7 linked regions of the Homo sapiens genome follow. The protein of the gene in region 1 purifies or fractionates together with the protein of each later gene. This does not show direct contact. Each region holds a gene or a part of one and is shown in the gene's direction. Other genes may lie near its edges. The genes, in order: ZSCAN5A, MYEF2, MYH1, HPSE, CDYL2, RIOX2 and MYH7.

Region 1 (4,197 bases):
TCCTGGTGTAGGAGATGGACAGGCAGAGGGGGTACAGGGACCCACACACTGTGTGAGGCCAACATGAAAGAAAGACATTGGTGAAATATTAGGCCTGATGGAATGTAGGGAAGGAGGCATTAGAGTGAACTGAAGGGGGGCCCAGGAGTCCCATCCTGAAGCAGGGAAAGTGGTTGGTATCAGATGCAGGGATCTGCCCCCAGGTCCCCAAATGAGCCCCTAAGTTCTAATACAAGGTGAGCTGCCATCGGCCAATTGAGTTGGATTCACCCAGAATATTTCTCCTTGTCTTCTCTTTGGTTTAGAGACTATTTCATCTAAAGGACCCATGTTTATGTACTTAACTAGAATATTCCAGGCGCAGGCAGGTGCTGGAGTCTAGAGAGGAAAAAATTCAGACAGGATTGCTGTGTCCACAGAGCTGACTCTCTATTGGGAAGGCAGATTTGAACATTAATTACAGTAAAGTGTGAGCATTATGGCAGGACCCAGGGAATATGAGAGCTACTTTCAGGTTCTCATGGTGAGTCTGATTGTCTTTTTTCTCTCTACAGTCTGTGGTCACCTTCCACGGAAAGGAATATATTGTGCAGGACTCAGATATCGAGATGGCTGAAGCCCCCTCCAGTGTCAGAGATGATCTGAAAGACGTGTCCAGCCAACGGGCCTCCTCGGTGAACCAGATGCGTCCAGGGGAAGGCCAGGCCCACCGAGAGCTGCAGATCCTGCCCAGGGTCCCTGCATTGTCCAGGAGGCAGGTGAGTGTGTGAGGCCTTGGTGTCTGGGCAGAGGTGGGAGAAGGAACAGGAGGAAATCGTGTGGCCGCTGGACTGATTGAGAGATTTGACACAGGACAAGATTAGAGCCATTCCCCATGGACATGATACATCCCCAAACATTCATTCCTGAGCCATCACAGAGAGGGAAGCCTCATCTACTTTTCTCTCCACCATGAGAGCTTTTAGCATTTAGGGTGGGGCATAAGAAATGATCTCAGTGAAATGAGGGAGGCAGTTTGCACAGATGAATGAAGATTCCTTCCCCGTAGCCAGTTTCCTCAAAGACATTTAATGTAATAATTCAGCAAGGAAACCATTTTCTACAGATTGTCAATTTCTTAATTTGAGGAGTGTTTCTCAACTGGGGTGATTCTGCCTTTCCGGACACATGGCCATGTCTGGAGATGCTTTTGTGTGTCATTGTAGGGGATGGTGGGGTGTTAATAGCATCTAGAGGGTGGAGGTGGGGTCTCTGCTCTGCACAGGAGCGCCCCCTCCAGCAGGGTGATGCAGCCCCAATGCCAGTGGTGCCACAGCTGAGGGGCCTCGACTAGAGTCATGCTCCTTCCAGTGTCAGGTGCAGGGAGACGTTGGCACGGCGGGGAGAAATATGCTCAGAGAACCAAACAGTGAAAACCACCAGGCACAGGAGCTGATTTGGAATATGGAGGGTGCAGATTAGGGACAGACACAGAAATGAGATGGTGATGTTTACGTGGGGTGATGGGGTGGTCCAGGGGAAGTCTGCACGTATTTCCACACCTGTGTCATTAGAAGAGTTGTTGCATCCAATCAGAAGGGGACAGATGTGTCCCTGCTTCCACCAGTTTGGACACAGCAGTCATTACTCTTGGTTTTTCCTCTTCAGGGAGAGGACTTTCTGCTACACAAGAGTATTGACGTAACAGGTGACCCAAAGTCTCTGAGACCCAAGCAGACCTTGGAGAAGGATCTGAAGGAAAACAGGGAAGAGAACCCAGGACTGACATCCCCAGAGCCTCAGCTTCCAAAGAGTCCCAGTGAGTATGAAGACTTGGATCCACAGGGGTTAGTCCCTCTCTTCTGGGGTGCGGGGCTGGGGGCCCAGCATTATCATCCCCTGGGGGAGTTGGCACTCAGCTGTCAAAGCCTCCCCATCCTCTACTTTCCAGAGACCTACAGTCCAATGTCTTAGGCTTGAGCTTGAGCGGAAGTTGTCAGCCAACATCAGTGTTTGGTTGCAATGAGTTTGGTGTATTGAAAATGCGCTTTATTAACTGTGTGTGTGGAATCCCTTCTTCCAGCAGATCTGGTGAGAGCAAAGGAGGGGAAGGACCCCCCAAAAATAGCCTCTGTGGAAAATGTGGATGCTGACACACCTTCTGCCTGCGTTGTGGAGAGAGAAGCTTCGACTCACAGCGGGAACAGAGGAGACGCTCTGAATCTGAGCAGTCCCAAAAGAAGCAAACCAGATGCCTCCTCCATTTCCCAAGAAGAGCCTCAAGGAGAAGCCACACCTGTGGGCAACAGAGAATCCCCGGGACAAGCTGGGATGAATTCAATTCATTCCCCAGGCCCTGCGAGCCCAGTCAGTCACCCGGATGGCCAAGAAGCCAAGGCACTGCCGCCCTTTGCATGTGACGTGTGCGAGAAGAGGTTTACGTGTAATTCCAAGCTAGTCATCCACAAGAGATCACACACAGGCGAGAGACTCTTTCAATGTAATCTCTGTGGGAAGCGCTTCATGCAGCTTATTAGCCTCCAATTTCACCAGCGAACCCACACTGGCGAGAGGCCCTACACGTGTGACGTCTGCCAGAAGCAGTTCACCCAGAAGTCCTACTTGAAGTGTCACAAGAGAAGCCACACAGGGGAGAAGCCCTTCGAATGTAAAGACTGCAAGAAAGTTTTCACCTACAGGGGGAGCCTGAAGGAGCACCAGCGCATCCACTCCGGAGAGAAACCCTACAAATGTTCCAAGTGTCCAAGAGCCTTCAGTCGGCTGAAATTGTTAAGACGCCACCAGAAAACACATCCAGAAGCTACTTCTCAGTGATTGCATAATCCGGTCTATGCCTTCTGCACCAAGAAGAAGTGAATGATATTTTTCATCAATGTTATCAGATGACATTTGACACATGCAAGGGCGTCTGACACACAGAGGGAGTGCCCTAGATATGAATTGCCAGGATGTTTGAGTAAATATGTGTCCTCCCCACTGAGCTTTGTTTTCTGTTTCATTATGTCCATTGTTTTCTTATAGGTTTATTTTGGTTTGTGTTGCTGTTCTTCCAATAAACGATCATCTTATTAGTTTTCAATATTGTATAACGGAAAACTGAGTTTCCTGATTGACATGGGGTTACCCACTGTTTTGCTGTAAAGTACAGTTGTCCAAGGAGGGTGGCCATATAAAATACATAATGCCTGATGAAATTTGAGTTTCAGATAAACAATTTTCTTTAGTATCAGCATGTTCTAAATTATTTATTTATCTGAAACTCAGCTTTTATTGGGTATCCTGTAGAGTTTTCGTTTTCTTTTTTCTTTCTTTCTTTTTTTTTTTTTTTGAGATGGCGTCTCCCTCTGTCACGCAGGCTGAGGTTCAGTGGCATAATCACCGCTCACTGCAGCCGCGACCTTCCAGGCTCAAGCAATCCTCCCATCTAAGCCTCCCGAGCAGCCGAGACTACAGGAGCACGCCACCAACTTGGCTAATTTTTGTGGTTTTTGTAGAGATGGAATTTTGATATGTTGCCCAGGCTGGTCTTGAACTCCGAAGTACAAGTGATCCAACTGCCTCGGCCTCCTTAAGTGCTGGCATTACAGGCATGAGCCGCTGTGCCCTGTATTGTTTTTATTAGACTTTATTATAATTATGATATTCAAATTTTTGAAATAATTTTTTGTAGTGATGGGATTTCTTGTTGCCCAGGCTGGTGTGGGGTGAGCCACCACGCCTGGCTCTAGACTTTCTTTTTCAGAGCTGTTTAGGTTCACAGGGAAATTCAGTGGACAGCACAGAGTTCCCCTAGACTCCCTCCTCACACAACACAGCCTCTCCCTGCCCAGCATCCCCAGCAGAGTGGTGCACCTGTTCCATCAGTGAGGCTGCCTGGACATATCACCACCACCCAGAGTCCATAGTGTTCATTAGGGCTCGCTCTGGGTGTTGTACGTGCTGTGGGTTTGGACAAAGGCCTCATGAGTACACACCACTGGAGTATCCTGGGGGGTATTTTCACTGCCCCCGGAATCCTCTCTGCTCTGCATATTTATCTCCCTGCCCCAGATGGTGTATTTTGTGGCCTAAATTTGGCAACCTCTAAATTCCCGATTTGACTCTTGAACTACAGAGGCATTGGGAGTCTCTGGTGACTAGTTGGTCTTAGTGATACTACCATCCCCTGAAGGCGTGGTTAATCCTCAGGTGGGTGGG
Region 2 (4,197 bases), on another chromosome or scaffold:
TCCTTCCTGTGCAGTTTGTGCAGTTTGACAGCAAAGACCAAAGTCTTAAAATCAGCTACATGTCATTATGCAAGCAACCTAAGGTCTCAAAAATTTCCTCTTCTATGGACAATAGATGTGGAAACACTTAAGGTGCCATATAAATATAAATAAATATTTATATCAATGAGAAAACTAGGTAATATAATATTTGCCTTATTCAGTGTTATACTTTCATGGTTATTGACTTTTTAGTTTGATTTGAACCATTTAAAAAGTAATTATCAAATTTTAAGTGGGTCTACAAATTTGGGCAAGATACTCATTTTCAGATATGTGTGCCATATATAAGGTGATATGATATTATTCAAAATCCTCTAGGTATTTTATTATTCCTCTCAGTGTACCTTTAAGTGGGGTATAAGGTGTACTTTGTATTATATCATGTTTTATTTCATAAAACACTTCTCATTAATAAATGGTTTTATAGTCGGGCTTCAGTGTGCTACTTTCTAGACAAAAACAAGAACCAGTGCTTTTATATGAAAATTTGCAGAAATTTTACAGATACTACTACAGGTATATAGCTTTTTAAAAAATTTTATTGCCAATTAGTTAATCATATATGGATCTTTGTAATGATTGTTCTCATTTTTGTTTTAGGTGGTCTTGGAGGCATTGGGATGGGACTTGGTCCGGGTGGACAGCCTATTAGTGCCAGCCAGTTGAACATAGGTGGAGTAATGGGAAATTTAGGTCCAGGTGGTGAGTATTCTAACTTCCTCTTTTCTTTTTAAATGATACATATGCTAGCTAATAAAGCCTCCATTGATGTGGTCTGTAATAATGTTTAAAGGACTCTAATTAATAGTTAGATATTTACGGTGTCACTTCATTCTGAAAAAGGAATGAAACCTTGAGCACAGCTAACATGAAAGAGATAGGCAGAAGTCAGGAGGGTTTCTTTGGGGCCAGCTATGTTGTAGCTAGCCTTTTAGCATTTTGGATTTTGAAATGTCTTGAAGGCAGAAGGAGAATATATCATCTATGAACAGTATTTATGGAGTAGCTGAAATGCTACCATATCATAGGCAGCTAAAATCTGTTTATCCATTTGGGAAGGTGGCTTTTCAGGTAGTTATTTGGCTGCTCACCTGGAAGAACTCACAGTTCATTTTTAGAGATTGGTTTTTAAACTTTGGTGTTAGGACCCTTTTATATTTTAAAATTTGTTGAGAACCCGAAAATGCTTTGTTTATGTAGTTATAATTACCAGTATTTACTGTATTATAAATGAAAAATTAGAAATTAAAAAAATTACATATTAAAAAATGATAAACTCATTACATGTTAACATACATAAAAGTTTTAAGAAAATAAACTATTTTTCAATGCAAAAAAGAAATTGGTGAGGAGAGTGGCATTGTTTTACCTTTCCACACATCTTTTTAATGTTTGGCTTAATATTGCTGTTATATCTGTTTCTGCACTTTAGTTTTTTGTGATATTGTACATCATATAGTGTTTGGAAAATTACACCTTAAACTCAAGAGAATGAGGGTAAAACATCAAATAATGTCTTAGTAGTATTTGGTGACTTAAATAGTTTTGACCTATTGAACCCTCAAGAGTCCCTGGACCATACTTTGTGAATTACTGTTTTAATTGATGGACTAATAAATGCTATCAGATTCCTATTTTGTCAAGATGCTGTAGTCACACTTTAAATTATGAGGCTCATTATCATAATCATTCTGATCCAAACAAGTTTTCTCCCTTACCCTTAGACTCTCACACCTACCTACCCTCTCCTAAATACATACTATTTATATTTTGAAAATTTTTACTGCTCTTTTAACTGCGATGTTTAGAGAGTCCTTACATTCTGGCCTGATCTCTAAATCTGCTGTAATGCTATTTCTGTGTCTATGCTGGAAAAAAAAAATCATTGATAGTAGTATTTCTGTGTTTATTGTGGAAAAAAAAGTGAATGATTACCTAGTTCAAGATATTCTCTAACTGAATGTTGTGGGTGTTACTAGTGAATTTTGCTTTCTTGTCTGATAAATGTTCAAAGAAACCCTTTTGAAGATTCATGATTAGACAGCTGCTATGGCATAGCACTTTAAACCATGCCTCCTGTACCCTACCGCTTCTCTAGTGTTTCATTGTGGTTATACCAGTGGTATCTATTTTGCTATAATGCATTATATCATCTTTTAGTCATAAAAATAAAATATACTTAAAGTACATACTGTGTATTTTATTTGAGGTATGGGAATGGATGGTCCAGGTTTTGGAGGAATGAATAGAATTGGAGGAGGTATGTATAAAGATTTGTTTTTTTGTATGTACCCATCACCATTTTTAATAAACTAGAAACTGTGTTGAGAATTCCATGAAAAAAAAGTCATGGTTTATTGTTGGCTCATGTTCTAAAGGCTGCTAGCAGAAATTGAGCCTGGTACATACTTAAAGGAAGGTGATGTGTTAAGAAGTAGCTGCACAAGGTAGGGTGGATGAAGAGCTTACTGGTGAGATTTAACATTTACAAAACGTACCTTTCAGCTACATGACTGACAGTTGGATCTCAAAATTAATCTTTATTCCATAGGAATAGGGTTTGGTGGTCTGGAAGCAATGAATAGCATGGGAGGATTTGGAGGAGTTGGCCGAATGGGAGGTAGGTAAATGTATGCAGTGGGAAGTGTGTGCATATTTAGTTTTCCCTATTATTAATATTTCCCCCCTATAACTTAGGAATGTGTGCTAAAAATGTCTTCAGAAGGCATATAGGCACTAGGGGATAAGGACAGGCCTGGGGAATGGGGATGATATGTGTGGCATGTGAGGTAAATTGGGTAAATGACAGACTATTTTATATTTGTGACTTACGCGTCTTTTCATAATTTAGATACATTCCTGAATGTTTTCAACATGTATTGATATATTTGAAAAGGTTAATTTGTTGCACAATTTTTTCAGAGCTGTACCGTGGTGCGATGACTAGTAGCATGGAGCGAGATTTTGGACGTGGTGATATTGGAATAAATCGAGGCTTTGGAGATTCCTTTGGTAGACTTGGTAGGGCTGGCTGCATACTTCTCCTTTTCTTTTTGTAGGCTATAATTTTTGAAATTTGGTTTCTCTTTTTTTGTGAAAAATCAGAAAATCATAATGTTTTATACAACTTATTACCTGAAGAAAACACTTTAAGGATTTTAATATGCTAGCTCTCTTTTTCAACATCTTACATATTTGAACTCTATTTTCAGAAGACTTTATGCTTTTCATTTATTGTAAATCAGAGCACATAGTACCTTGGGAATTTTAAAGTATGATTATTTAAAATTAATTAGTATATTATCTTTCCATCCTTGTTTAGGCAGTGCAATGATTGGAGGGTTTGCAGGAAGAATAGGATCTTCTAACATGGGTCCAGTAGGATCTGGAATAAGTAGGTTTAAATTTTACTAGAATTTATTCAGTAATATTTGAGTGCTTGCAAAGACTTTGCAAGAGTAGTTATCGTAGTATAGTAATACTTTGTTCTTATACGTTAATGTGTCTTGCTATAATTTGAGAAACCTTGATAATTGAGCAAAGCCTTTCTGTTTGATTATTGTTTGAAATTTCTAAATTAACTGTTTGAATTTTACTTTTTTGATATTTCTAAACTATGTGTTAACAGCCAATCCAGGAACCTTCTTTCCAACTAAGGAATCTGGGGATTTCTCTGATCATGTTTCAGGAGCAACTTTTGCTTTAGCACCAACTTTGTTTCCTTGCTTATTTTCTATAATAGCTATTAGTGACTAGCTTATTTTATTTGTAAACATCTATGTCTTTTGGTAAATGCAGATATAGCACTCTTAGGCATCTCCTGAGCTTGAGTCAGGCTAAGGTTGAAAGAGGTACTTAATTCTTTTCCTCTTGAACCTTTCCCGTAATAGCATCAAGAGTAGTTGCAACACTGGGGAATGCTGAATCTCCCATCCGTCTATTTCCACTCCTACCTTTTAGGCCTTATATTAAGCCTGAATACATGGATTATTTATTTATTTTTTTAACCTCTTTTGCTTACTGGGACATGTCTCTGAGCTCTCCATACTTTATTGACTTCCTTTAATTGATCAAATTTCACAAATAGAAAATACAACCTATTTAAACTATTCTAAAAGTAAATTCTAAAATCCTGTCAGCTTAAGACGTCTACTT
Region 3 (4,197 bases), on another chromosome or scaffold:
TACCATCCATAATCACAAAATATTAGAACTAAAAAAAGACCTTTAGAAAAAAACCCAATTCACGCCCCTGGTTGTTCAGCAGAGGTGACTAAAGCACAGAGAAGTATATACTGTCAAAGCTCGTATTAAAACACAGCTCTCCTGATTACACCTCACTGACTTTACTAGGCCATGCTATTACTCCATCCCATTAAGTTTAATTTGTTTATGGTCTCCTTGCTTGGAAACACACAATTTATTTTATATATTTAAGTAATAAGAGCCAAGATTAAGTAACAACTGAATCATATAAATCATGTATTATCTGAATAGAAATGAAAAATAGGAGTTCAATCCTTTTGGTGCCTCAGTTTCTTGTTAATTATAAATTAGATTCTTTTACAAGTACTGTCATCTCTTTAAAGTTATCAGAGTACATCTCAGATATAATATCCTCTGTTTGAATGAAGATGATGTTTTGGGGCTACACACATATAAACAGAAATTGTTTTCCCCCCTTAGAAAGATTTTATTTTGATTGAGGCATCCTCTCTTACCTCATCTTTCTTTAACACAATGGTACACTTTGGGGAAGGCTGATCGAAGTTAGGGCTATATTGAAGTTAGTCTGTGGCCATAAGATAGTAAATTTTTTCTCTTTGTGAAGTCATCTGACACATTTAGAAACAAAATCTCAGTCATGGCTTGATTAACACTATTTCAATCTATTAAATAATAGTCCAAGCCTTTAGCATATTATGCATTTTTCAGCTATATGCATTAATTAGCAGATAGCATGCCATTGAAATCTACAGATGACAACTACGGAATGTATCTAGCTTTGGAGAATACTGCTCTTTATATTAAACCAGCAGGACACACCCATAACTTTACCATAATATATTGAAAAACCCCACTGAATACATGACACTTATACTCAAATGCCCTGTTTCACTATAGAAAGTTTTGTTTGTGTAACTGATACATATGCTGATTTTCCACTGTTTTTCTTCTAGATCGGGAGAATCAGTCTATCTTGATCACGTATGTATTCCTATTCTGAGATTTATTGGCAGTTTGTTCTTACTGGAAAAATGACAAACCAAAAAAAGAAATTAGTTAATGTTCTCTACTAAAGCACTGAATGATCAACCTGGAACTAGATATTGGTTTAGCTTTATTATAAGGTTTACATTGCATTAGAATGTAAAATAATAATGTTCTAAATCACCTCATTTGCTGGTCTTGAAAGTTCCACAGAACTTTTTGGTGTGTAGAAAGTGTAAAATGAGCTGGGCTGGAACCCAGTATAGTGCAATGAGCAGCATACAGCCTTCAAAAGGTACAACAGTTTGGAAATACTACTAGTGGTTCATTTTTAAGGCCCACTTAGAGAATGTCTGTTCCTTCAAAGACCAAACTTGAGCCATGTCTCTAGTCCGAGGAAATGGAAAAACACATGCACGTTTCATAGAGTTTCCTACTAATTGTTCCATTCACTACAGAGGTGCTGAGTAGCTGCTTTTCAGACCCCTCAAGCCCAGGCCTCAGCACCCAGAAAAAAAGCTGACACATTATAAACACTCAAGAAATACGTGTTAAATGAACAATGACTGATTTTTTCTACTTCTTGCCAGTGCAAAGCAAAAGAAATAATACGAGCTATATGTAGGCTGAAAAGAAAGATGTAAAAGGCTCTCTAATAGAGATATAAAGACAAAGCCATGAGGTAGTTGTAGTTTCATTTGTCACAGTGCTTAATTTCTCATACGTTTGGTCTTTGACAGCGGAGAATCTGGCGCAGGGAAGACTGTGAACACCAAGCGTGTCATCCAGTACTTTGCAACAATTGCAGTTACTGGGGAGAAGAAGAAGGAAGAAGTTACTTCTGGCAAAATGCAGGTGAGTCTGATTGTTAGTCAGAATCCAGGCTCTGTCGGGACTCTCAGGTAGGAAATTCCCAAGCCCCAGATGCAAGGACTGCTCTTGCCTTTGCAGGGGACTCTGGAAGATCAAATCATCAGTGCCAACCCCCTACTGGAGGCCTTTGGCAACGCCAAGACCGTGAGGAATGACAACTCCTCTCGCTTTGTAAGTCTCTTGGTTGCCAAAGGGTCTTCTCTGCCTTTAGATGCCAGAGAAAGCATGTCTGAATTATTTCAGTGGCATCCCCACTACGTACTTCAAGCTTTGGGTATAACATCATTTTTTTTACTTACAAGGGTAAATTCATCAGGATCCACTTCGGTACCACAGGGAAACTGGCTTCTGCTGATATTGAAACATGTGAGTAACAGGACCTCCTAAATAGAATCCAAGAATGACAAATATTGGTTTGGAGGAACACTTTGCAGCTCCTGCTGAACATGGAGCTTGTAAAGCACCAGTCTGCTGCCAAACATGCTTGTGGTTAATGTCAGTCTTATCCATAGCCCACAGTATGCTTTACCCACTCCAGTCATGAGGTAATGCTTCTGTGGGAACTGCCAGGAACTGCTGGGCATGTCCAAAGTATTCCAGCCTCAGAATGATTTCAATTTTTTTTTTAAGAAAAAACTAACACTAGAAGTAAACAAGTTGTCCAGGGATTGAGGATATGTGATTTATTCCTAGTCTGAGCTTTAATACTGTTGCTTTTAGTAGTCCCTCTATTATATGGCGACAGGACCCTGCAGAGGGAGTCTCAGGACTCAATTATATTCCAAATGTCAAGGATCTTCTGTATGAGAAGTGAATATCTTGAGCCAAGCATATTTCACTTTTTTCCCAGGAGGCAGGAGGAACTGCAATAGTGTTTGTAGAGACATAATATGTGGTACTTCACAGGAACATTCAGTTGAAATCTCAAGAGGCCAGTGAGATTTAGCTAATGATCCCAAGTCCTCAAATCACTCCAGGACATTGTGTAATTTTTCCCCATAATCTGATGTCTACTATCCGTTGCAGATCTTCTGGAGAAGTCTAGAGTTACTTTCCAGCTAAAGGCTGAAAGAAGCTATCATATTTTTTATCAGATCATGTCTAACAAGAAGCCAGATCTAATTGGTAAGAAATAAATTCATAGCTAGAAGATTGTCACTGTACTATCTTCTAATGTAAAACATATGCCCTGAATTCTGTGACCCAGAAATGCTCCTGATCACCACCAACCCATACGATTATGCCTTCGTCAGTCAAGGGGAGATCACAGTGCCCAGCATTGATGACCAAGAAGAGTTGATGGCTACAGATGTAAGTTATACATGAATTTTAATTTAAAATCCATTATGCATGGGAATGGCAATAACAGCCATCTATATGTGTGTAAAAGATACAGTATAAATTCTCTTGTGCCCTAATCTTTGTCTTCTCATCTCTCATGGTAGAGTGCCATTGAAATTCTGGGCTTTACTTCAGATGAAAGAGTGTCCATCTATAAGCTCACAGGGGCTGTGATGCATTATGGGAACATGAAATTCAAGCAAAAGCAGCGTGAGGAGCAAGCTGAGCCAGATGGCACTGAAGGTACCAAATGAATCTCCATCTGGGTTTAATGAGAGAATATAGGCAAAAATGTCCATTCCAAAATTCAAGTCTTCTTTACAGCTGAGCTCCTGATGGACATACTCAGATGTACCCACACACAGACTTTCTACAAAGTTATTTACTCAATACTATGCCCCTTTGAACTGTGGGTCCCAGAGTAAGTCATATTAGGTATCTGAATTATGTTTCTGCAGTTGCTGACAAGGCAGCCTATCTCCAAAATCTGAACTCTGCAGATCTGCTCAAAGCCCTCTGCTACCCTAGGGTCAAGGTCGGCAATGAGTATGTCACCAAAGGTCAAACTGTGCAGCAGGTAAGTGCATGACCTCAATGAATCACACACATCCCAGGCCTTCATGACATGTCTTTAATAACACCAACAAACTTTATCTGTGAAGGTGTACAATGCAGTGGGTGCTCTGGCCAAAGCTGTCTACGATAAGATGTTCTTGTGGATGGTCACCCGCATCAACCAGCAGCTGGACACCAAGCAGCCCAGGCAGTACTTCATTGGGGTCTTGGACATTGCTGGCTTTGAGATCTTTGATGTGAGTTAGCAGAAAAATTGTACCAAAAAAGTTTCCAACAAGCAAGCTTGTTGCTGCAGTCATATAGCATGCCTGTAGTCACTTATGGAAAGGGTCTATGAAAAATAGCTGCACTTTAAACTTAACTGACACATGAAAGAGCACC
Region 4 (4,197 bases), on another chromosome or scaffold:
TTTTTTTTCTTTTCTCTTCCATCTTCATTCTTTTTTCTCTCATCCTCATTCTTATAAGCCTAGAATACATCACAAATCCTTTATGCCCATGGAAGCAAGAGGAATAAAGAATGGAGATGTTTGTTTTGCCATTAACTAAAGATCTGGGGTGTCGGGGAGAAGGGGGATAGAGAAGGAGAAGTGGGAAGAGGTGTCCATAATAGCTTAGGTGCAATTCTGCTTATTTTACATTTTACCCCCGCTGACTGCCACTTTTTCTTCAGCCCTCACACATTGTTTGTGCAGGGACCTCATAGGACCAGGAATTGTCTATAGAGGTGGGAATTTGTCTCACCCTGAAAGGGATACCTCTAGCATGGTAATAGTCTTCTAGGATTTGTTATCATATGGAAAGATGTAAAGGGAGGGATTCTGCTGCTGCTGCTGCTGCTGCATGCAGTTGCCATTTCATTTAAATGACTTATTTATAATTGATGACACTTTTCTGGCTTCCTGTTAATTCCTCCCTCAAAGATCAATAAACCAGAACCAGGCATGGTGGCATGCACTTGTGGTCCTGTAACCACCCAACAGGTTCACCTTGCCTGCTGTCTAGATAGAGCCAATTATCAAGACAGGGGAATTGCAAAGGAGAAAGAGTAATTTATGCAGAGCCAGCTGTGCAGGAGACCAGAGTTTTATTATTACTCAAATCAGTCTCCCCGAACATTCGAGGATCAGAGCTTTTAAGGATAATTTGGCCGGTAGGGGCTTAGGAAGTGGAGAGTGCTGGTTGGTCAGGTTGGAGATGGAATCACAGGGAGTGGAAGTGAGGTTTTCTTGCTGTCTTCTGTTCCTGGATGGGATGGCAGAACTGGTTGGGCCAGATTACCGGTCTGGGTGGTCTCAAATGATCCACCCAGTTCAGGGTCTGCAAGATATCTCAAGCACTGATCTTAGGTTTTACAACAGTGATGTTATCCCCAGGAACAATTTGGGGAGGTTCAGACTCTTGGAGCCAGAGGCTGCATTATCCCTAAACCGTAATCTCTAATGTTGTAGCTAATTTGTTAGTCCTGCAAAGGTAGACTTGTCCCCAGGCAAGAAGGGGGTCTTTTCAGAAAAGGGCTATTATCATTTTTGTTTCAGAGTCAAACCATGAACTGAATTTCTTCCCAAAGTTAGTTCAGCCTACACCCAGGAATGAAGAAGGACAGCTTAAAGGTTAGAAGCAAGATGGAGTCAATGAGGTCTGATCTCTTTCACTGTCATAATTTCCTCAGTTATAATTTTTGCAAAGGCGGTTTCAGTCCCAGCTACTTGGGAGGCTGAGACAGGAGGATTAATGGAGCCCAGGAGTTTGAGGTTGCAGAGAGCTATGATCACGCCACTGCACTCCAGCCTGGGTGACAGAGTGAGACCCTGTCTCTAAATAAATAAATAAGTAAATAAATAAATACATAAATAAAATCAAGATGGTGTGCAATTAGAATTGAGCGATTTTGTTTCCAAACCTCAAGAAAGCTTGGTCTTGCTCTGTCCCAGGTGGCTGGATAAATTGGGCCTGTCAGCCCGAATGGGAATAGAAGTGGTGATGAGGCAAGTATTCTTTGGAGCAGGAAACTACCATTTAGTGGATGAAAACTTCGATCCTTTACCTGTAAGTGACCATTATTTTCCTAATTCTAGTGGAGTAGATTAAAGTCAACTCAGGACCTCTGGTGTTAACCTCCTATGAACAGTCAGTCCTCTCAGTAACTAGCCAAATCATGAGATGATGAATTAGAAGGAGCCTTAGATAGCATCCAATCTAACATTTTTTTGTGTGTTTGAAGAGAAGAAATCAAGAGCTAGGAATAACTTTTTAAAGGTAAGCCATTTGCAGTATAGTGTGGATTTTGTTTAAAAGGGGATAATTTGAAATTTTATGACTCATTATACAAGACAAAATAAGTTGGATTTTCAAATGTTTTACAAAGTAAATCAAAGTTATAATTGCCTACAGTACGCAAAGCTTCAAAACATTTTTTATGTTATGAAATTGTAATTTATTTAACCTTAAAATGAGCCAGTACCATGTGTTTGCTTAAAAATCTCATGCTAAGAATTTACTATGTTGTTAATAATCTTCAAGATATTTATGAATAAAGTCTTATTTCTAATCCTTCCTCCAACTGTATCTGGTGCTAAATCAGGAAATGTTTCTTCCCAAAAAGCCTCGTGGAAGATCTGTATGTCTAAATATATGTCAGGGATAATACAGATGTAGCCCTGAGAAGCATGACCTTGATTTTTATAGTCTAAAATGTCATTTGCAGATATATATTTTCTAAGAATAATTCCTAAAAGAATTATTTGAATGTTGTAGGAAAGCTAAGAAATTTTGCAAAGAGCGTACGTGAAAATATAAGCTAGGCTTTTGTGGTTTGTGGATAGACTTCCCAACAAAATTGCTTTTTATCTATAGTGATCCAAGCTTGTGGAACATATTAGTCATCTTTTTTTAGAAAATTCTTAGAAAAGTGATCTTGCAAAAATGGAATTTATCTTTCCCCAAGTATATTCTGTCATGTATAGAGTTAAACTAAGCATAGTAATTTCACCAGACAAACATTCAAAATCTACTCCTGACCTTTTTATCTCATCCAAATTTTCCCAGGGCCCAGACATAAACCTTTGCCTTACGAACTCTTTGTATATGCACTAAATATGCTTCTCCTTCAAGGTTCTCAGTCAGCTAGAAAAATGTGCAAGAGTAAATGGTACCCTTCTCACTTGTAGATCCAAGAGAATTAGACTTAAACTCACTCTACATGTCTGTGACTTTATTTTATTTGCATGACAGTCCTGTGAGGTGGCAAGGCAGGTATCTTGGATCCATTTTTTAGATAAGGAAGTTCAAATTGAGAAGAGGTTGCATGATTTACAGGAAGCCATACTGTAGTCCTATGTTACTCTTAAAAATCCCATTCAAATCCTGCTTCTGAGGCCTGCATACTTTCTACCCTACCAGTCATTGACCCATGCTTATGTCTCCTTTGAAAACATTGATTCCACTCTTGTCTCCAGTGAAAAAGTGGAATTTAAGCAGAGAAACAAAAGCCATTTGTCTTGTTAAGTCTACTTTCCCTCTACTTTCAAGAAGGAAAGTTGGGGTATGTGTTGAATGGTGATTTATTTATTTATTTATTATTTTAAAAATTGATACAAGGTCTTACTGTATTGTGCAGGCTGGTCTCAAACTCCTGGGCTCAAGTGATCATCCCACCTCAGCCTCCCAGTGTTGGGATTACAGCATGAACCATTGTGCCCACCACCGATCCGCAGTTTTTTAAGAAAAACTTTTACTATAGAAAATTTTAATCATATACAAAATACAGAGGAAAGTATATGAACCCACTTTAGGAGACTAGAATATGCCACCCCAAAATATGCCACTTTGGCATAAGGATTATTTCGAGCTAAAGGCAACTGGGAAGAAACACATAGAAGAAAAGTTCTCTGTCCTTCTCCATTTGCCTAAAAGCAGGACATGAATCTTAAAAGTCCCCCTCCTTCCCTTTCTACCAGGAAAAACAAGAGTTAATCACTGAAGATAACTTCAGACCCTTATCAGTGTAGAGATGGCACTAGAAGAATCTATATTACATACTCATTTATTTTCCTTCCCACAACTTGCCACCCCAGAGACTAAAAATCCTTTTCCTTTGTCATGTCTCTTGTCCAAAAATTTGCTCTATAAGCTGGAGTTCTAAGCCACCTCTTTGAGAATTACTTGTTCCCTGGTATTTTCTGTTAACATACATGTATTAATATACATGTTAACAAGCTTCTGTTTGTTTTCTCCTGTTTTCTGTCTTGTTACAGAGGTCCATCCCAACTAAGAACTAAAGAGTAGGAGGAAAATATAATTTCCTCCTGCATACTTTGATCTTGTTTAATCCGTAATCCTTCCCACTTTTCACCTCCTACCTATTAGATTACTTTGAAGCAAATTTCAGATATATTACTTTATCTATAAATATTTCAGTATGTGCTAGGTGTGGTGGCTCACACCTGTAATCCCAACACTTTGGGAAGCTGAGGCAGGAGGATCACTTGAGCCCAGGAGTTCAAGACCAGCTACGGCAACAAAAAATCAAAAACTTATCTGGGCATGGTGGCACATGCCTGTGGTCCCAGCTACATGAGAGGCTGAGGCAGGAGGATCGCTTTAGC
Region 5 (4,197 bases), on another chromosome or scaffold:
GCAAAGCCATTGTAATTGATTTGCGAGAGGAAGAGAGAGACCTAAGGATACTGCCTGCTTGGTATTCACCCCTCTCATCTCAAGGCAGCGCCTGAGGAAGCCCTAGGGGGGTCCCAGAGCCCCATCTCTGGTTCTCATATTAAATAAGGTCATGCTCGTGAATGTATTTGAGGGTGGTGCTTAGCACATAATACGGGTTGGTTAAAGGTTAGCTGCTGGTCTTGCTCTTATTGATAATTTCCTATGATTCATAGGCATCCACCAGTGGAGAGGGCTGCCTCTCAGGGTGGTCAGTGGATTCCCTGTGGCCAAGGAATCTGAGCAGAAGCTGATATATGGGAGAAGAGAGTAGAGGACCGCACAGGGCCTTCACAAAGAGCCCTCTAGGTCCCCTTCTGAATTTGGAGATGCAGGAATTCAGCCTGTCTCTTCACCTTCCCTCTTCCTAGAACAGAGGGTGGCACAGGGGAGAAGGTGGTGTGTCCCAGCACATCCAAACCTTTCCATTGGAAATCCCAACGTCCTCTGATCACATCCTTCTAGGATCGTGGTCCATTTCAGTTTCTTACATTGTTTATCTGGTTTTGGAAGGCTCTGCTCTGACCAACGGGGGATTGAACCTGCACAGTCCAGTGAAGAGGAAGCTGGAAGCGGAGAAGGACTACGTCTTTGACAAAAGGCTCAGATACAGTGTCCGCCAGAATGAAAGCAACTGTCGGTTTCGAGACATCGTTGTGCGGAAGGAAGAAGGGTTCACGCACATCCTGCTGTCCAGTCAGACCTCGGATAACAATGCCCTGACACCTGAGGTAAGGGGTGGCGGCCAGAGGGAAGGGCAAGCTGGGCTGTGGCTCCTTCTCACTCAGAATGGAATATTGGCTTTCTCCTTCCTTCCATCAGGGAGCTGAGGATGGTAACTAGCGTGCATAAAAACTTGACTGCAGCGCGCAATTTGCTCATCATTTTACATACATTATCCCATTTGATCTTTATGACCGTGTAATGATACCCTCTCATCTTATGGATGAAGACCATGGGGAGAGGGACTCACTGAACTGATCGTGGACACAGACTTAGCCAAGGGGCAGACCCAGAATCCAAACATCACATCTTGGGCTTTTCCAGCTAAACTTTGTTGTCATCAGCATGTCATATTTGTTGGCCGCAGATATAATTCACTCAGTTAATGTATCTCACTCAGTTTATAATACATATATATGTTACTACATATTGTATATATAATTGAGACAGATTGATTTCACATACCATAAATGTCACCCTTTTAAAATGTACAATTCAGTGATTTTTAATATATTCACAAGATTGTGCAAGCATCATCACTACTGAATTCCAGAACATCTTCATCACCCCAAGGAGAAACCTCACCCACATGAAATAGTAACTTCATTCTCCTTTCTCCCATGCCCTGGAAACCACTCATCTACTTTCTGTCTCTGTAGATTTGCCTATTCCGGACAGTTTGTATCAATGGAAACGTGCAGTTTGTAGCCTTTTGTGTCTGGCTTTTTTCACTTAGCATGTTTTCATGTTTCATCCATGTTTTAGTGTGTATCCATACTTCATTCCTTTTATGGCTAAATAATATTCCATTGTATGAATAGACTATATTTTATCTATCACCTTTTCTATTTGTTCGACTTTTGGCTTGTTTCTACTTTTGATTTTTATGGATAATATTTCTACAAATGTTATATACAAGTTTTTATGTGAACATATATTTTCAGGTTTCTTGGATATATTTCTAATTTCTAATATGATTTTCTTGAGTCTATTCCAATTCTTAGAATTGCTGGGTCATATTGCTTACCGTATTTTTCGAGGAACTGCAAAAACTGTTTTCCACAGTGGGTCCCCCATTTTACGTTCTGACCAGTAGTATGTGAGGGTTCTAGGTTCTCTGTATCCTCGATAACACTTGTTACGTCTGTCTTTTTTATTATAGCAATACTAGTGCATGTGAGGTGGTATCTCATTGTGGCTTTGGTTTGCATTTCCCTGATGACTAGTCATGTTGAGCATCTTTTCATGAGTGCATTGGTCATTTATCTCTTCTTTCTATTCACATCCTTTGCCTATTTTTAAAATTAGGTCACTTTTCTTTCTATGGTTGACTTTTAGGCATTCTTTATTTACTCTAGATAGTAAGGCCTTATCAGATACTTGACTTGAAAATATGTTCTCCTATTCTGAGAGTTGATGTTTTACTTTTTTGATAGTGCCCTATGACAAACAAATTTTTAAATTTTGATAAAGTCTGTTTTACTGCTTTTTCTACATTACTTTTTAAATATTAATCATGCTTATGTCTTAGATGAATAAAATAGGGAAACAATGAATACTTAATGCAGTGAGATTGACAACATCATTCAAAATACAGGGTACATGGCAGGAGAAGGGAACAGATTCTTGACGGCACAAAGGTGGGAAGATGCTCCACGAAGCAGCCTTTTCCTACAAGATGCCTGGGGTAGGGCAGTAGAGTGGTAAATGGCGATAACAGTGATGACAGCCACTGAACAGGGGCTCTTTGTTCCTTGTATTTGCTGTTTATCTCATGTCATTTCGTCACCTCCCTTCTGATGTAGGATTGTTATGATCCACATTGTATAGATGAGAAAATTTAGGCTTAAACAACCCAACTGGGCTAGGGTCTCACAGCTTAACCAAGTAGGTGCCAGGAGGGCAGGGGTTCTGTTCTTGCTCGCCCTTTTGTCTCTTCTGTTCATCCCAGTGCCAGGCCCACTGAAGACATTTAACTCCGAGACCCCTTTTTCTGTCCTTGCAATATCCTGTATTCTCTTTTTCATAATAGCAATGGGAGGTTAATGAGAAGGGTATGTTTTGGAGGATGAAGTCAAGGGATGGCCACTCACTCACATCGGGATAATAGAATGACCTAGCATTGTCCAGTGTACCCCGTACCATCAGGGAGGCATAGGAAGTGGGGTGGGGAGGGAGGTGCTGTGCTCTTGAATTTGTGATTGCATTATTATTATGGTTGAAATAGACCCTGGTTCTTTTACGGGGTTGTGGGTGCGGCCATCTGGAATGATTGACAAATGGTGAGGGAAGCACTGTGGCTAAAGCTTTGGGGTTGTGGGGTAGTGGTTGTGTGCTGCCCCTTCTCTGAGCATGGTGTTTTGGGGGCCTCTCCATCCTCCGCCTGTAACAGAAGCATCCCTGGGGTTCTCTGCTGTGTAGACCTCTGTGTGGGATTCAAAGAAGCCCAGAGCCTGCAGTCCACCCCGAAAGCAGCTCTTCATATGTTTATACACCTGGAAACCTCATTATTTTAAGCTCATCATGACATCTGCAGAGACCAGTTTTTCCTAGATTCTTTCTACTTCACTACTTTCTAAAAGCGTGCTCTAAAAAGGCACAGCATTTTCTTTCAAGAAATTGAACACATGTGAAGTCTCCAGTTCATTCCCTCTGTGGAGCAGCCCTGGGTGGTAACTGTTGCCCACTCATCATGGAAAACATGTTGTGCTCGTCTGATTTAAGGTGCACAGGTTCTCACCTCCTGAGCTGCGGGCTTGGTTAATTGGGGTTCCTGCCCTAATCAGTGTCAGTTGGTTACAGAACAGGAGGAAAACAGTCAAAGTTATTGATCTGGTATTTTCAGCTGTCTCAACAACTGAAGGGGATTGAGTATGTGGGTGAGCCAGCTGACTGGGTAAAGCAGCCCGTAATGAAGGTCCTACTGAAATGAAGAGGCTGTGTGAGAGGAGGAATACAGGTTTTAGTCTAGCAGACCTGGCTTCCAATCCTCCCTTCAACTTACCATGCTGTTACCTTGGGAAGTTACTTTGCTGCTCTGAGCTTCCTCCTTTATAGAAATTTTACAGTATTTTGCTGGCAAGATTAGAGATAATGTATGCACAGGAGCCCACAAAGTACCTGGCATATAGGAGGTATGTAATAAATGTTCCCATCATTGTTAATGGGAAGCAGAGGCCATTTAATGTCCACCAGCAGACATTGCCTTGCTTGTGAATGGAGGAACCAGAAGGCGACCACTTTCATGGTTATAATTAAGTTGCTTTTTCTAGTTGTATGTGTAACATTGGTTGGATTGGCCTCATGGGCAGAAATTCATACATTACTGTGTGCATTAAGTAGATTCTGAAGCTAGTGGGTTTGCTGTAATATTTCTCCTGTCTGGGATACAGCAGA
Region 6 (4,197 bases), on another chromosome or scaffold:
TCTCATTGACCCTGTTAGCTTTTGCTTCTGCTAAGGACCTGACTCACTCTCTGTTTCCCAATCCCAAGAGTGAGGAACTGGCCGGCTGCCCCTGGGTCCTATTCATTTCTTCTCTTTTCAGCTGGGGCTGGGAAGAGCTTCCTAAGTTACAGAAGTTGCCTGCTTAGGATTGTGGGTGGGTACCATGATCAATGTGTCCAGGCTGGATTTTGACCTGTGTCTTGGACAGTGATGCTGGAGCTAGAATGAGAAGATGTGACTTGAGGGCCATTGCTCCCCAGAAATGATCCTGTGTTTTGAGCCTAATGCTCCTTCAGGTACCATGTAAAGGTGAATATTTGGGGCCTCTTCCTAACACCTGTCAAGGTAGCATTGTTGGAGTGTTTGGGGGTCTGCTGTATGTTGTTGATTTGGTTGTTTTACCAAAGTGGACCCTTCAAGAGATATTCCTAAATTGTGGGAAGTCCCAATATCTATTCTGACTCTTAGAGGAGCACTATTTAACTTCTACTAAATTCCTCCATGAGCTGTTGCTGTATGACTTCCACCTACATAAACCTGCAAAGGAAGCACATATTGTATGGTGCTGAGAGATCTGCATGTGCCCTCCGGGTTGAGACTCAATTAAAGATGCAGGGTTGGATATAACATTAAGTCACAAAGCAGTGAGGCCGCCAGGTAGTAGATGTCTTGGGAAAAGTGTCTCTCATGTGGCTTTTGTCCTCCTTTGCAACTTTTCTGGGAGGGAAGCATAACAGTGTTAATTTTGCTTACTGAGTGAGAAGTAAAAGTCATACTGTGAATTTCCATTTTCTACTAGCCGGCAATTTGAAATCTGCTGGTGACACAGGAAAATTTTAAATAGCTAAGAAATGTTTAAAGAGAGCATCCCCACAGAGTGCATTTCTTACACCGGCACGCACTTAGGAATGAGCCAATTCCAGATACCCCAGAGAAAGCAAAGGTAATTGAATAGGGATATTTGTCCCTAGATGTTATTTTTAGTCACTGGCTTCTATCCCCCGGTAAAACCACTGCTAGACATAATTGTTTTGGAATTATTGATGGTAGATATTTTCTTTAGGAGTAGCATCCCTTGTAAGTGACAAGGAAAATGTAACATACAACTGTTCAAATAATTACACAATCCAGATATCTTGCTGTTACCCCAAATTTGTTGTATTTATTGCACATAAAATTTGGTTTTAGATCCTATAATGACTGTTTAAATTTCCTACAAATCTCCCCTCATAGACACTTTTGTTAAAAATTTGGTCCATTGAACTTCCTGTTTTATGAAAGTCTATGGTTAATTTTCTGAGAGCTTTTAAGAGAAATCAGTATTGAAGCCTAGCTTCCCACTTTTAACTTTGCAAGTGAGTGTCTGGAACGGGGAGGGAGGAAACAGGGTGGTTGATGAAGGTCTTAGATTTCCATGCTGAGTAATGTCCAATTAATGGAACTCAAAATGCCTGGACAGGGAAGCCATAATCCAATTTGTAGCTTTTGGCTTTACTAGCAATAAGTATTTTATGTATATTTCGTATGCACTCACTGTTTTGGTTTTTTTTTCCCCCTTGGTGCATATCCTAGTTCATGGGGAGATTTCCTTTTGGATACCATCTCGGGGCTTGTATTTGATACTGCAAAGGAAGACGTGGAGTTACGGACCGGCATACCCCGGCAGCTGCTCCTGGTAAGGAGTAAAGGCAGGTAGGAATGAAGGATGGTAGCTGCAGCCCAGGCCAGCTGAAGTCCTACCTTAAGGACCCCAGGATACTTCTTCCAACATGAGCCAGGCTTGTCTACTGTGCTGCACTGCTGAGCTGTGTGACTTGCAGAATGAGTGGAGTGCCATGTGTTATGTGGTGATCCAAAGAACTGTGATGTTGTACAGACAGCTCTGTATTTCACAGTGGCAGTAGCAGGCAGTGTGAAAATGTTGGTTGAGTAAATGAATAGTACGGCCAGGAGAACTGTAGATTTAGCACACATCAGATTACTAGTTAAGAGAAACTCACTGTACTGGAGATCCTGGCCTCGGTGTATTCGTTGGCCTCCTGTTCTTTTATTACATTTTGAAACAGGAGTGTTATTTGATTAGTTTTGAGATGAGTGGATTAGAGCTGAGTTGAGCAAAGGTTGCTTTCTCTGAAGCATTCATCTTAGGACAGTGACCTGCTTTCCAAAAGGCAGAGCTCAGACTGTACCATATTTCCAAGGATCTCTATTTCTAGGCAAAATTCTGAAAATTTTTTGCAAACAATAGGCAGCTTAGAATTAACAGTGTTTATAAGGAAATGATGAGATATCATTCTTAGGGGCTCAGGTTGTCCCTTCCCCTTTGGAATGACATGGATTAATGTCTATACCCGGTGGCTGGCAGTTTTGCAGTCTACTGTGGAGACTGAGCTGGGCAGTAAGTTCTGCTGGCATCTGGGCCAGGACTCACTTCTGTGTTCCTAGCAGGTGGAATCCACAACTGTTGCTACAAGACGATTAAGTGGCTTCCTGAGGACACTTGCAGACCGGCTGGAGGGCACCAAAGAACTGCTTTCCTCAGACATGAAGAAGGATTTTATTATGCACAGACTCCCCCCTTACTCTGCGGGAGATGGGGCAGAGCTGTCAACACCAGGTGGAGCTTGCTGTTTTCTTCTGGGTGGTCAGAGGCTAATGCAGGATGTTTACGGTTTTTCTGGGTAGGCTCCTTTTTGAACAGATGGAAAGTATGAAGTGCTTTCGTGTTAATGTGGACCACATCCATCCTTAGTGAATATGGGCAGACGAGATGTGCTGCACTCAACCTTTAGCAACCTGTATCTTAGAAGTCATTTGGAAAGAACTTGTATCCCACCCTGATGGGAAATAAGAGCCCTGTCCTTTTGGGTGAGAAATATGTATATTTATAGGTACTCTGGTATTCATAGTCTTCAGGAAGTTTTCAAAATTTGAACATTGAAATAATCTTGTTGGAATTAAGTCAGGGTTGGGTTGTCTTTATTTGTGTTGCTTAAAGGAATACCTGAGGCTGGGTAATTTATATAGAAAAGAAGTTTATTTGGCTCATGGTCTGCAGGCTGTACAAGAAGCATGGTGCTGGTATCTGCATTTGGAGAAAACCTCAGGCTACTCACAGTGGAAGGGGAAAGGGAGCTGGCATTTGCAGAACACATGGTGAGAGAGGAAGCAAGAGCGAGGAGAAGTGCCAGGCTCTTTTTAACACCAGCTGTCATGGGAACTAATGGAACAAGAAGTCACTCACCGCCCCCAACCCCAGGGAATTATCTATTCATGAGGGATCTGCTCCCCACAATGTGACCCAAACACCTCCCCTTAGGCTGCACCTCCACACTGGGGATCAAATTTGAACATGAGATTTGGATGGGACAAACATCCAAATCATAGCATGGGTAAAATTGTTACCATCAGCCAGTGAGATTCAAGAAATGTCCAAGATTATCATCAACCTTCTCCAAGGCACAGGTGCCTAATTTATGACAGATTTAGGCTGCAAATGATATAACATACTTTTGGATGGATGATGTCATTGATGACTTCCAGATGGATGATGTCAGTATCCTATAGCAAAGACCACCAAGAACATACTCCTGAATTCAGACGAAATTGGATTTATTGACTTGTTGCAGTGGGAAGACCACACACCATTGAGAACTGCAGGGCATCTCAGTAAAACGGTGTTAGAAAAGACTTATAGGACTCAGGTGTATGTTAGGTGATTTTGGAGAGGGTTCAAGGAAGCAGGGCTTTGCTCTGGATTGGATGCTGTCAGGAAATGGAAGGGATTCTATGATTAAGTCTCCTAAATGTTATCTGGTAGGCAGGAGGAATGTATGAGGCTGAAGTTATCAATGGTAAAGCGGAAGTGGTCACTCATTAGCCAGAGTAGGGGGATGTTCGGTCAGTGTTGTGGTTTGGAATATGTTCTTGCCTTGCCTGAGTCCAGACATGAGTATGTACGGAGTGGTGGTGTTTTGTTTTGACCTATCATGGTGACAGTGATCTCTGATGTTAGCATTCTGTGGAATTGCCTGTGTTCAACAGGAGAACACAAAGACCTAGCTGTGAGTGCCAGGCCAGCTTTTTGGCTGCTGTTCTTTCTCAGGGTTGAGTGAAAAGAGTATTTTTTACTAACTTTAATAAAACTCTTAATTATGACCAAGAGAGAACCACTGA
Region 7 (4,197 bases), on another chromosome or scaffold:
GCCTATCAGTACATGCTGACAGGTGAGAGGCCCTGGAAGGGTCTTCCTGAAGGGAACTGGGATAGGCCGGGAGGGAGAGGGAGAAGGAAGGGAGAAGCCCCACGAGAGCATCCTGTGCAGCTCCTGACCTTTCCTCCCCACCCTCTCCCCACAGACAGAGAAAACCAGTCCATCCTGATCACGTGAGTGTAGCTGCTACTGTATTCCCTTTCAGAATCTCCCTGATCCCAGCCTCCAGCCCCATCAGGTGTCCCAGGCCCCGAGGCATAGACTCAGCCTCTTTCCCCCCAACCTCGTGCCCATCTCCTTCTTCTCTGACCATTACCCTGACCCCTCTCTTTGCTCTCCCTCTTCCTTTCTGCTTTCCATCCCCTTCATGTTTTTCCTCTCCCACCTCCTTCACCCACTCTCCAACTCATCACGCGTTTATCCAGAAGCTCATTATCGCCATGTCTTCACCTCTGCATTTTCTTTCCCTTCAGAAACATTTCCCATTCTTCCAGCCCTACCAACTTTTCCCAAAACAGCCCAGGCCCATCTCCCCTGTTTACTTTGCCCAGCCAAGCACAGGCTCAGCCTGCCCAAACCAGTGCCTTCTGGTGGCATCCTTCCTGGTGCCAGCCCTGACCTCTGTGCATCAGAAGACAGTTGTGGATTTTGGGTGTAGATAACCTGGCAGCTTCTTGCCCAGGGCTCCTACTCTCGGGTAGGCCCAGGCATTCTCTCCTGATTTGAGGCTTGCTGGTCTCCAGTAGTATTGTTCACTGCCCAATAAGCCCCTGTCTTCACAGCGGAGAATCCGGAGCAGGGAAGACAGTCAACACCAAGAGGGTCATCCAGTACTTTGCTGTTATTGCAGCCATTGGGGACCGCAGCAAGAAGGACCAGAGCCCGGGCAAGGTAGGCCTGCTGCCCTCCAAGGTCCTGTACCGCAGAAAGGGAGGGAGAAGAGCTCTCACCTGCCTCCTTCTTGGCCTCTGCAGGGCACCCTGGAGGACCAGATCATCCAGGCCAACCCTGCTCTGGAGGCCTTTGGCAATGCCAAGACCGTCCGGAACGACAACTCCTCCCGCTTCGTGAGTGGTCCCTGACCTTGGCCTTGGGACTTGGACTGGTGGAGGAATGGTCTCAGATATGAGCCTTCCCCCAACTCATCACCACTCTCTTCCATCTCTCCAGGGGAAATTCATTCGAATTCATTTTGGGGCAACAGGAAAGTTGGCATCTGCAGACATAGAGACCTGTGAGTGCCATGAATCTGCTAGGCTCAGCCTAAGCTCACCCTTGCTCTAGACCATCTGGTCTTGACCTCTCTCTCTCTCCCCTCCCTCCCTCTGTTTTTCTCCTCTTTAAGTCTCTGTCTGTAGGTGTCTCTGTCTTCAGGTCTACATATCTGTCTCTCTCTGAGACTTCCTCTGCATCTTTCTCCATTTCTGTCTCTGCATGGCTAGGTGTCTTTCTCTGGGATTTCTCTCTGAGACTATTTCTCTCCTTCTGGGTCTCTGTTTCCATCTCTCTGTGTGATCTCTTTGTGTCTGTCCAACTAGTCTCTCTGGCTCTTCCCTTCCCTCTGCCTTTTGCTTGCTACATTTATCATTAATTTTCCTTGTGCCCAAACCCTAACTTTTCTTTCTCTCCTTCTTCTCCCCACCTGTTCACAGATCTTCTGGAAAAATCCAGAGTTATTTTCCAGCTGAAAGCAGAGAGAGATTATCACATTTTCTACCAAATCCTGTCTAACAAAAAGCCTGAGCTGCTGGGTGAGTCAGAGCCACCGACTGAGACCAACTATCTCCATGGCAACCTGGTCCCCTCTGCTTGTGGCTGGACTCAGCTGGCATGCCCTGGGTTTCATGGCACTGCTGGATTCAATTCAGTGGGATGTGGGGCCAAGCCAAGCCCTGTCCTGTGCTCTTCCTCAGGCCATGTGCTGTGGCGAGCAGCCTCCATGAGAGCCGGGGGCTTGTGTCCCACCCTAACCATGTTTTTTCCCCTAGACATGCTGCTGATCACCAACAACCCCTACGATTATGCATTCATCTCCCAAGGAGAGACCACCGTGGCCTCCATTGATGACGCTGAGGAGCTCATGGCCACTGATGTGAGTGTGTGAGGACCCAGCCAGGGGGTGGGAGGATTGGCAGTGAGGGGCAAACAGGGGTCCAAAAGCAGAGCTAAGACGCTGGCCATTGGTTGTTTAAAGTGGTATGGACCTCCTGAGAGCCAGAATGTGCCCTGTGATCAGGGTGTACTGGGGAATGGATGAGGTGAGACAGGACTGGCCAGTATCTGGTGTTCTATCAAACCAGGAAGAGCTGAAAGCCATGAGACAGAGAGACACACAAGCCAAGAAACAAGCATCACCGAGGGAGCAGGACGAGGAGGGAAGGCCATGCAGACGGCATGGGGCTGGAGGGGCTGTTAGGTGAACAGATGCAGACAGGTATGGAAGGCCAGGCAGGAAGCAAGTGTAGGGCCAGGAAGCATAAGTGGGTAACTCAGAAAAGCTGTGGCCACTGACACTGGGGCTGCGGCCAACTGACGTCTGCTCTGCTCTTGCATCTTACATCCTTTGTTTTGGAGTTCCCTGCATCTTACATCCTTTGTTTTGGAGCTCCCCACTGGGTATGGGAGTCTCAGAACCCACAGGGATTAAGGAGACAAGTTTTCTCTCCAACTTACAAGGGATCTCACTTACCCATCATACTTCTTTTTCTGGGGTCCGCCAATATGGGGCCTCCCTACAGAACGCTTTTGATGTGCTGGGCTTCACTTCAGAGGAGAAAAACTCCATGTATAAGCTGACAGGCGCCATCATGCACTTTGGAAACATGAAGTTCAAGCTGAAGCAGCGGGAGGAGCAGGCGGAGCCAGACGGCACTGAAGGTGGGAGGCAGGGATTCTTGGGGGCAGCTGTCAAGTCATGGAGGGCCATGTCTGCTCAGCAGTCATCTCTCTTCTCTTTTTTCTTTTTTTTTTTTTTTTGAGATGGAGTCTTGCTCTGTTGCCCAGGCTGGAGCGCAGTGGCACGATCTTGGCTCACTGCCACCTCCACATCCTGGGTTCAAGTGATTCTCCTGCCTCAGCCTCCCGAGTAGCTGGAATTACAGGCATGCACCACCATGCCTGGCTAATTTTTGTATTTTTAGTAGAGATGGGGTTTCATCATGTTGGCCAGGTTGGTCTCAAACTCCTGACCTCAAGTGATCCGCCTGCCTTGGCCTCCCAAAGTGCTGGGATTACAGGCATGAACCACCACACCTGGCCAGCAGTCATCTCTTTACCAACTTTGCTACTTGCCTTTTCCTTCCAGAGGCTGACAAGTCTGCCTACCTCATGGGGCTGAACTCAGCCGACCTGCTCAAGGGGCTGTGCCACCCTCGGGTGAAAGTGGGCAATGAGTACGTCACCAAGGGGCAGAATGTCCAGCAGGTGGGTCCATCTTCAGATGATAATGGGTGGGCAGGGTAGGGAGACTGGCATGGTGGGATGAGAGTTTTCAAGTTCACTCTTCCCAACAACCCTGCTCAATATGGGTCTCTCCTCCACCTTGCAGGTGATATATGCCACTGGGGCACTGGCCAAGGCAGTGTATGAGAGGATGTTCAACTGGATGGTGACGCGCATCAATGCCACCCTGGAGACCAAGCAGCCACGCCAGTACTTCATAGGAGTCCTGGACATCGCTGGCTTCGAGATCTTCGATGTGAGTTGGGACCCCTGGGAGTGGGAGAACAATCACTCACTCGCTCCCACATTCAACAGCTATTTGCTTAGAGCCAGCTGTGGACCAGACATGGGAAGGCAGTGGGGACTGTGTGGTGACAGAGGCAGTCATTTTCTCTGTCTTCAGGGGAAGCCCTCCTTCACTGCCTTGACATGGAGGGGACCAGCCACGCCCTGCTGGGCTCAGGCACAGTGGACGGGCACAGCCCCAATGGCCACTCACACCCACTTTCTGACTGCTCCCACCCCTCATGCCCCCTGCAGTTCAACAGCTTTGAGCAGCTCTGCATCAACTTCACCAACGAGAAGCTGCAGCAGTTCTTCAACCACCACATGTTTGTGCTGGAGCAGGAGGAGTACAAGAAGGAGGGCATCGAGTGGACATTCATTGACTTTGGCATGGACCTGCAGGCCTGCATTGACCTCATCGAGAAGGTGCCTCTTTGGCCTTACCACCTGAATTCTCCCTGC

The links.
Region 2: the proteins of ZSCAN5A (region 1) and MYEF2 purify together in Homo sapiens (co-immunoprecipitation; one large-scale study listed by IntAct). This does not show direct contact.
Region 3: the proteins of ZSCAN5A (region 1) and MYH1 purify together in Homo sapiens (affinity purification with mass spectrometry; one large-scale study listed by BioGRID and IntAct). This does not show direct contact.
Region 4: the proteins of ZSCAN5A (region 1) and HPSE purify together in Homo sapiens (co-immunoprecipitation; one large-scale study listed by IntAct). This does not show direct contact.
Region 5: the proteins of ZSCAN5A (region 1) and CDYL2 purify together in Homo sapiens (affinity purification with mass spectrometry; one large-scale study listed by BioGRID and IntAct). This does not show direct contact.
Region 6: the proteins of ZSCAN5A (region 1) and RIOX2 purify together in Homo sapiens (co-immunoprecipitation; one large-scale study listed by IntAct). This does not show direct contact.
Region 7: the proteins of ZSCAN5A (region 1) and MYH7 purify together in Homo sapiens (affinity purification with mass spectrometry; one large-scale study listed by BioGRID and IntAct). This does not show direct contact.

Annotation. Positions count from the first base shown.
Region 1 is NC_000019.10:56,220,192-56,224,388, reverse strand, and holds the end of ZSCAN5A (zinc finger and SCAN domain-containing protein 5A), read left to right. Parts: intron 1-554; coding exon 555-758; intron 759-1,647; coding exon 1,648-1,798; intron 1,799-2,062; coding exon 2,063-2,814; 3' UTR 2,815-3,086; downstream 3,087-4,197.
Region 2 is NC_000015.10:48,150,339-48,154,535, reverse strand, and holds part of MYEF2 (myelin expression factor 2), read left to right. Parts: intron 1-642; coding exon 643-744; exon of another isoform or gene 745-2,229; intron 2,230-2,251; coding exon 2,252-2,302; intron 2,303-2,593; coding exon 2,594-2,662; intron 2,663-2,964; coding exon 2,965-3,063; intron 3,064-3,364; coding exon 3,365-3,436; intron 3,437-4,197. UniProt on the Homo sapiens protein: Transcriptional repressor of the myelin basic protein gene (MBP). Binds to the proximal MB1 element 5'-TTGTCC-3' of the MBP promoter. Its binding to MB1 and function are inhibited by PURA.
Region 3 is NC_000017.11:10,511,694-10,515,890, reverse strand, and holds part of MYH1 (myosin-1), read left to right. Parts: intron 1-995; coding exon 996-1,023; intron 1,024-1,766; coding exon 1,767-1,881; intron 1,882-1,977; coding exon 1,978-2,070; intron 2,071-2,201; coding exon 2,202-2,265; intron 2,266-2,925; coding exon 2,926-3,024; intron 3,025-3,106; coding exon 3,107-3,210; intron 3,211-3,344; coding exon 3,345-3,483; intron 3,484-3,698; coding exon 3,699-3,817; intron 3,818-3,902; coding exon 3,903-4,052; intron 4,053-4,197. UniProt on the Homo sapiens protein: Required for normal hearing. It plays a role in cochlear amplification of auditory stimuli, likely through the positive regulation of prestin (SLC26A5) activity and outer hair cell (OHC) electromotility.
Region 4 is NC_000004.12:83,303,645-83,307,841, reverse strand, and holds part of HPSE (heparanase isoform 1 preproprotein), read left to right. Parts: intron 1-1,524; coding exon 1,525-1,639; intron 1,640-4,197. UniProt on the Homo sapiens protein: Endoglycosidase that cleaves heparan sulfate proteoglycans (HSPGs) into heparan sulfate side chains and core proteoglycans. Participates in extracellular matrix (ECM) degradation and remodeling.
Region 5 is NC_000016.10:80,629,631-80,633,827, reverse strand, and holds part of CDYL2 (chromodomain Y-like protein 2), read left to right. Parts: intron 1-591; coding exon 592-809; intron 810-4,197.
Region 6 is NC_000003.12:97,948,285-97,952,481, reverse strand, and holds part of RIOX2 (ribosomal oxygenase 2), read left to right. Parts: intron 1-229; coding exon of another isoform or gene 230-287; exon of another isoform or gene 288-330; intron 331-340; exon of another isoform or gene 341-872; coding exon of another isoform or gene 873-964; intron 965-1,593; coding exon 1,594-1,696; intron 1,697-2,466; coding exon 2,467-2,638; intron 2,639-4,197. UniProt on the Homo sapiens protein: Oxygenase that can act as both a histone lysine demethylase and a ribosomal histidine hydroxylase. Is involved in the demethylation of trimethylated 'Lys-9' on histone H3 (H3K9me3), leading to an increase in ribosomal RNA expression.
Region 7 is NC_000014.9:23,428,464-23,432,660, reverse strand, and holds part of MYH7 (myosin-7), read left to right. Parts: coding exon 1-22; intron 23-154; coding exon 155-182; intron 183-791; coding exon 792-900; intron 901-983; coding exon 984-1,076; intron 1,077-1,179; coding exon 1,180-1,243; intron 1,244-1,661; coding exon 1,662-1,760; intron 1,761-1,997; coding exon 1,998-2,101; intron 2,102-2,747; coding exon 2,748-2,886; intron 2,887-3,313; coding exon 3,314-3,432; intron 3,433-3,556; coding exon 3,557-3,706; intron 3,707-3,990; coding exon 3,991-4,161; intron 4,162-4,197. UniProt on the Homo sapiens protein: Myosins are actin-based motor molecules with ATPase activity essential for muscle contraction. Forms regular bipolar thick filaments that, together with actin thin filaments, constitute the fundamental contractile unit of skeletal and cardiac muscle.